2 separate regions of the Homo sapiens genome follow, and region 1 is reported to be linked to region 2. Evidence: microRNA targets listed by miRTarBase, many of them from high-throughput screens and not tested one by one. Region 2 holds a microRNA gene; the other region holds the end of a gene's coding sequence.
The links. Region 2 holds the annotated microRNA hsa-miR-586 (UAUGCAUUGUAUUUUUAGGUCC, at 1,544-1,565, shown strand). A microRNA usually pairs through its seed, bases 2 to 8, with sites in the 3' UTR of a target mRNA and lowers its output. Matches are read on the target gene's strand: a 7mer-m8 pairs with bases 2 to 8, a 7mer-A1 pairs with bases 2 to 7 and ends in A, and an 8mer does both.

Region 1: the mRNA of DTX4 is a reported target of hsa-miR-586. Seed matches in the 3' UTR shown: 7mer-A1 at 1,058-1,064.

What each region holds. Positions count from the first base shown.
Region 1 is chr11:59,204,179-59,207,592 of GRCh38, reverse strand. DTX4 (deltex E3 ubiquitin ligase 4) reads right to left here. Exons shown (of 9, transcript NM_015177.2): 9 at 1-2,917. The coding sequence ends at 2,684. Among named protein-coding and RNA genes, the nearest start is that of MPEG1, 7.0 kb to the left of the region's middle.
Region 2 is chr6:45,195,885-45,199,298 of GRCh38, reverse strand. MIR586 (microRNA 586) reads left to right here and starts at 1,529; the gene lies at 1,529-1,625. The region is part of intron 2 of SUPT3H (SPT3 homolog, SAGA and STAGA complex component); the gene reads left to right.

The DNA.
Region 1 (3,414 bases), not on the chromosome of region 2:
TTCTCACTGAAATCTAGACTGCACCTTTCCAGGTTGGCACAAGACAAAGGGCAGAGGAATGCTCCCCGCCTTGCCGGGCACAGTGTTAGAAAGGAAATTCAAGATCCCTACTGCCCAGAAAGCCACACAAGAACAGCACGAGGATGAGGTAGCCCCTACTGGGCATCTGCAGAGAGGACAAGAAAGGGGGCACAGACACAATCAAAAGCCCAGGGGAAAAGGCTTGAAGGTATGAAGTCGACCTCTCCAAGTGGTATTGCCACAGGCACAGCGGCTCCCTTTCCATCTTGAGTCTTCTTCCTTCTGCTCCTGGCCACCCCCTTCCCCACCTATACCTTCTTCTCCCTGATGTGGGGAAACTGATCTCTCCCCAGTGCCTAATTCCATTTTGAAAGTCTGTCTTCTTTTCTTCCCCACCTCCTACTGCCTCATTGTGTCTTTCTTCCCATGGACCCTCAGCCTATTTCTGCATCCTTGCGGCCAAGAAGCTCAGCAGATACTTGACCAGTGTGCGAAGGTAGAGACGGCATGAGGCTCTCCAAGTAATCTCTGTACATGGTAACCTGACAAAGGGCATGGGTGTGATATTAAACACCGCAGGGATGTCTCTTCCATTTAGTTCAGGTGTTTCCTTCCTAACTATGGCAGGAAATTGCCCTGTGGTGCAGTAACCTTGGGACCAGTCTCCTGGTCTGCTGGTGAGATACAATGGCTGCCTGCCGACAGGAGACACAGGGACAAGGATGGCAGAGCAATTCCTCCCATCAGAGCTCCCTCTGGTGGAGCTGATCAACATCCCTGTAACCATTTGGAAAGAGAGCAAAGGCTCAGCACCAGCACATCCACAGAACTGGGTGACAGGCAGGTGAATCGACTGACAGGCAGGTGAATCGACTATCCACCCCAATGTCAAAATGGCTGGAGGCCTAACAGCAAGCAGCTATGGGGCTGGCTTTATGAAAGATTGGCCTCCAGTTCCCATCTAAGTACCATTTTTGAAGGTTCTCTTGTTTCCATTTTTCTAGCATCAAAAACCTTCCAAATATTATGAAATATATATGCATATATATATATATATATATACGTCAAACCCCCAAAACATGAGGTATATAAATTCAAATTAGTATCCAGAGGAACTTCCCCCAAACACATAGTTCAAAGAACCCACTTTCAAAGGGGGAATTGGGTTTCCCTTCTTGATCCCCCCTGTTCTCCTCCCTGGCCCCCAATTCGTTCCTTACTGGGAGCCAAAGGCAATAAGAATGTTGGGGAGGAGATAGGGTCTTGGGACACAACAAGATGCAGATTGGACCAGACCATATTGTGATCCCAACTCCATTAGGAATGAGCTAAAGAGATTCTCTCCCTGCTGTAAGTCAATCTATAATAGATGAGGGAGATGAGGGACCCAGCAGCTCTGGGCTCTGATTAGCAAATTTGCATGGAAACAGATTGAAGCCTTCATAGAAACAAGACTGGATGGAGATGAGCTCTGATCCAATCTTGAAAAGAAATATAAAAGGATGAGTTCAGCCCTCACCTCATTGCATCTCCCCAGGCACAGTTCTGTCTTCATTGGGGTTTCAGTTCACTACGGGATAGGTTGGCAACAGGTGAGGAACGTCAAAGGACCACAGCCTGGCTGTTGGAGCCCCATCAGAACTGGGGTTTGGCATCTTGCAAAACAGAGTGCAGGGACATGACGGGCCTTCCCTTCAAGCTGGCCCAGCAATGCACACACGCCCACACACACACGCGCATGCACAGACACAGAGGGCACAGAGCCCAGCATGGGCTCCACTCACAGTGACTCGATGAAACTCATGGAATCTTTGAGCTGGTCTAGAATGAGTTGGGAAGAAGGCTGTGGGCTCCTCTCCCTGAGGACAGTTCAGATGCTCAGTGGGATGCAGGCTCTGGTTTGATCAGAGAGGGTCTAGAAACAGCATCATGGGATGCCACTCCAAAGAGGAACCCCAGAGTCCATCCATCCACATGAGAGAACCAGATGCCTCTTTGGACAGGTGAGAGCTGTGAGGAGGAGAGGAGGGCCCAGAGAAGCCAAGGACTGTGATGACAGCAGAATGTGCTCCCAGAGGCTTTTCCTTCTCCGACCCTCTTGGGAAGAAGTGCTTCCTTGCTCTACACCAAGGCATCAGTTTCTGATGTCACAGCAGTTTAGTGATTCACCCCTTTGCCCACCCCCCAACCTTGCACAGTGAGAGCTCCCTGCCTCCAGCAGAGGGAGAATAGCAGAAACTCCAGTCTCAAAGCAGAGTGGAAGTAGCAAGAAGCCGGCTGAGGCAAGAAACCCCGGCTTCCCAAAGCCAGGATATGGAGTGCCTAAGCACTGCCCATACCCTAGGTGTGCTGACCATGCCCCTACTTGGGAGGTGGGGTAGGGAGGGGATTCCTGCCTACCCAGCACCAAAAACTCCATGGGAACAGACCCAGGATGGCCCTCATCCCATCTCCCTTTGTGTTGGATGAGATTTATGAATGATGTCGCTATATTCAGTCTGGCTCCCACTGTGGTTGGGAGGGATGAGGGATGGACACAGGGCAGGAGGGGAGGATAGAAAGTTGGGAGGGCAGGACACCAACTTCTTCTACATTGACTCACTCTCCTCACTTCCTGTCCTGCAGTCTCCATGGCCCCTCCCACCTCAAAGCTTTTCTGGCCTCAGTCCTTCTCCTGGGCAGTGCTGTCCTCAGAGATGCCCTGGGCAGCCAGTTCAGCCAGCACATTATCCAGGTAATTGGCATCTGGGTAGCCATGGCCAGTGAGATTAGAGCCAAACTCTGTCTTGTGGTGGACCTCATTCCAGATGACGGTGTCTGACTCGCCTGTGGTGCTGGAGGTGCCAATGGCAAAAATGAGGCGGCGATCCCAGGCCACGAGCAGCAGCTTCAGAACCTAGAGGGATAAAAGTGGGACATGAAAGGCAGACATTAATTGGCAGTCAAAGACTATCCCTTGGACGGTAGAGAATCCTCCCAAGGGCCCCATCCCTTCCTGCATCATGATACCCTAAGCAGCCCAGGGGAAAGAAAGAGATTTGGACTTGGAGTTTGGGAGCTACAGGCTGAGTCCTGGCTCTGTCACTGAATAACTGTGTGACCTTGGAGAAGTTATAGCACCTCTCTGAACATTAATTTTTTTATGAAATGGCAATGGTACAATCTGCCTCTAAACGTTGTGAACATCTTACTGGACACTCCATGAAAAGTATTTTCACACCAGTGCCTACAACGCACTAATTGATAAATGTTATCTGCCAACATAACGGCTGCATTTTGAAAGACAGGATCTAGGAGTTGAAGGCGCTTATGATCTGAGAACTTCTGAAGTTCTGCCCTTCATTACTGCCACCACTACCTCAATGTAGTATTAATTTATCCAAAGCTGAAGCT
Region 2 (3,414 bases):
TAAAATAGTTAAAAATTAAGCTGAGTTGTTTTTTTCTGGCAAGGAAAAATAGACTTAAATCTTTATATTGGAAGCATTCATTAATCACATATATACATTTAATCCAATGCAACAACAGTATTTTAAAATAGATCTTAAGAAATAGGTGTATTTTATTGTCTTTGAGTTAATACATTTTGAAATATAAAATTGTATGCATTTCTAATTTTAAAGATGTTGTGTCTTTAAAGATGACAACAGCCCTTATAAGCACTAGTAAAAGATGTAATTATTTCTAGTCTTAAGATTTTAAAATGTTATAAAATAGCACAGATATTTGTTAAGTAACAGTATGGGAAATAAAGTGTTGTAATTGGTCTGTTATAAAGCTATTCTGTTGCATTTTTCTATATCCTTAATTACATGATTTAGTTTCATATTATTCAAAGCTTAAAATAACAGATATGATTAGAAGTTAGTACATTTACTTAAAAATAATAGGTAGCTATTTCATGATAATAATTAAGATGTTGGTGTTCCAAATGTAACTTCAGGTAGTGTGACTTAACTCAGAGTAACTCAAGGAAAGATATAGCAGCTTAGTCAAAAACCACTCATGTTACCTGTTATAAATAACCCTGGATCAAACTAATTTTCTTAAAAATTAACTTATATCAAGAAGTTATTTTAACTGTGTCGTTGTTACAGATGAGACATTGATTCATTGTTATATGCTATTCCCAAGTTCTGAAACTTGATTTGTTTTCACAAGTGAAAATTTCAGCAAATTAATGTATTGGGACTGATTCTTTTCTTTTTCTTTGTTTTCTTATGGTTAATTAAGAAAACAAATATTTTAACCTAAAGATATAACAAAGTATTAGGAGGAAGGTTTCTAGTTTTAAATTGCAAGGCTTGTGTGTTCCATAAGCCACCAGTGTTTAATTCAGTATTTCCATCTAAGAACTTACATTATAGCAAATGAGGTAGACATTTATACCTTTTTTTTCTGCTGCTGTTGAATACAAAATGACACTCAGTATTTGTAAAAGTGATCCTGTTTCAAATCAGAAAACTGCATCACTAGAATATGTATTCCTATTTTGAAAAGCTATTTTTAAAATATTTTTTTGTTCCTGCCTGGCTTTCATATTGATTAGACCAGCTCTTAAGAAGATATGATTAAGTATCATTTTAAAGTAAAAATGGGTATTCAAAGCATATAACATTTCAGATAATATCTTGTTCAGCAGACCAAAAGATAAGTTGAGAACTTTGAGAGATTTTTTTATTTCTAGAAATGCAGTGATGGAACATTATCAAGTTTGGGTTATTAAACAGTATTCAGAGTAAGAAGAAATCTGAATGCTTTTGTAAGTTTACAGTCTGAATAGATGCTAATTGCAGATGAGAAATACAGCTTTAAGTTTCTTACGTTGTATGTAATTTGGGTTTTTTTGGTGATTAATATGGCAGTTAGACTCACTTTACACTTTGTAAATTCAAAGAAAAGCAATTATCTAACAAAGTCAAATTCTTATTAAAAGACATGGGGTAAAACCATTATGCATTGTATTTTTAGGTCCCAATACATGTGGGCCCTAAAAATACAATGCATAATGGTTTTTCACTCTTTATCTTCTTATTTTATGTAAATGAAAAAATAGTATTGTCAATTTTTTTCTGCAAATACCACAAAACTTTTGTCTTTCTCATAGTTTACCTTAATTTTGTTACATTGCATATTTCAATTTGAATTCTTATTTTTTAATTAGTTTTAAAAAGCATGTATTATAGAGGATATATGAAGTATTCATCCAACCAAATAGCATAATTTAACTGATCTTTGAAAAATGTTTATTGGTTAAATGCACTTAGTAACAATGTATGTAAAGAAGAAACACCATGTAAAACAGGAGCCACTTAAAAATTCCTTGGTAGATTTATTTTTCTTTCAAATCATTTAAGTTATTAGATCATAGTATGAACTATTGTTCATGAGTTTTTGAGTCATTTATTTTAAAAATTTCATGAAAAAATCTGAAATGATCAAGTGACATTTTCTCTCCATTTACTTGATTATTTGTTCATTCAGTGTTAATTGAACACAATTTTATTGGATGCATCAAAATATTAAAAAATAATCTTTATTCCTATTTCTGATACTTAAAACCAATTTAAATATGTAGTAGCAATTTTAATATTAAAATGAGAAATGAGTATTGAAGAATTATGTCTTAAAACGAAACTTCTTCCTCCACTGTTGAATTTAGCATACTATTTTTTATGTTAACCTTTTGTACCAGGGATTTTTTTTTCTTCTCCTCAGAAGCTGAGGATGTGTTATTTTAGATGTATCTTTACCAAGGAAGAGATGGTAAATCCATGTTGTGGCTTTTTACGTATTTTATAAAGACAGGGTTTTAAAAAAATAATATAGCAACACTGTAAGTCAATCTTCTCCATGTTTTCTTGAATCATTTTTGTATTCTCATCTTTTATCAGTAGTTGTCACACTTTTTATGGAACCAAATGCCTAATAATTGAAACACATACACATGATCTTTGAGAAATCATGAAAATACAATTCTTGTGCTTAGTGATATCCAGAAAGCATAATATTCTGAAAAAAGTTATTCCCTTCAGTCAATTTAAAATTAAACACTCTAATGCAAAAGGATATCTAAGGTGAAAGATGTTTGTGTAATGCTAAACATAACCAAAGAAACTGTGGTTTTAGCAAAGGTACTATTGCTCTATTTTATCAAGTGCCAGAAATTGCATAATGAAAGTCTTTCAGTTAGTGAAAATATAAGTATAAAAACACAAAAATACCACCCAGCTGGTAGAGATCTTCCTAATTTTTACCTGATTGTATTTCTGAAGAAATATGGCAGGGCTGTCGTAAATTTTCAACATGAACTGCATTTTTGTTGCCAATTTCCATATCCTTTAAAAAGTGCTGAAGCGTGCATTTGCTATTTATGTTTGCAGTAGACTGAGTACACTTTTACTATTTGTGGTTTTAGAAATTGGAAACAACCAAACAGTGGTGCTATGGTCTAAAAAAATAAATTTTAAACAGCTGCGGGACAGTATTTTTAGAATGGTAGGAGTACTTCTAAAGCAATATATCTGCCCCCTACCCCCTTTTAAAATGATTGAATATTGTCACAGATATAAAGTCAGATATCTATTGTGTATTATCTATGGTAGATTGGATAAATTAAACTAAAAGTATATTTTGATAGATGTGAAATATATTTTTAGCGTGCTAGTGTCAGCTCACTTTTCTAACCTGTAAATATTTGTTACTATATGCCAGCTACTGGCATATACACTTCATAGGCGTTGAATCTTCTCCTTCCTTGGGTAAGAATGATCATTATTCCCATCTTACAAATAAGAAAACTGATGTAAGTAACTTGCCCGGGA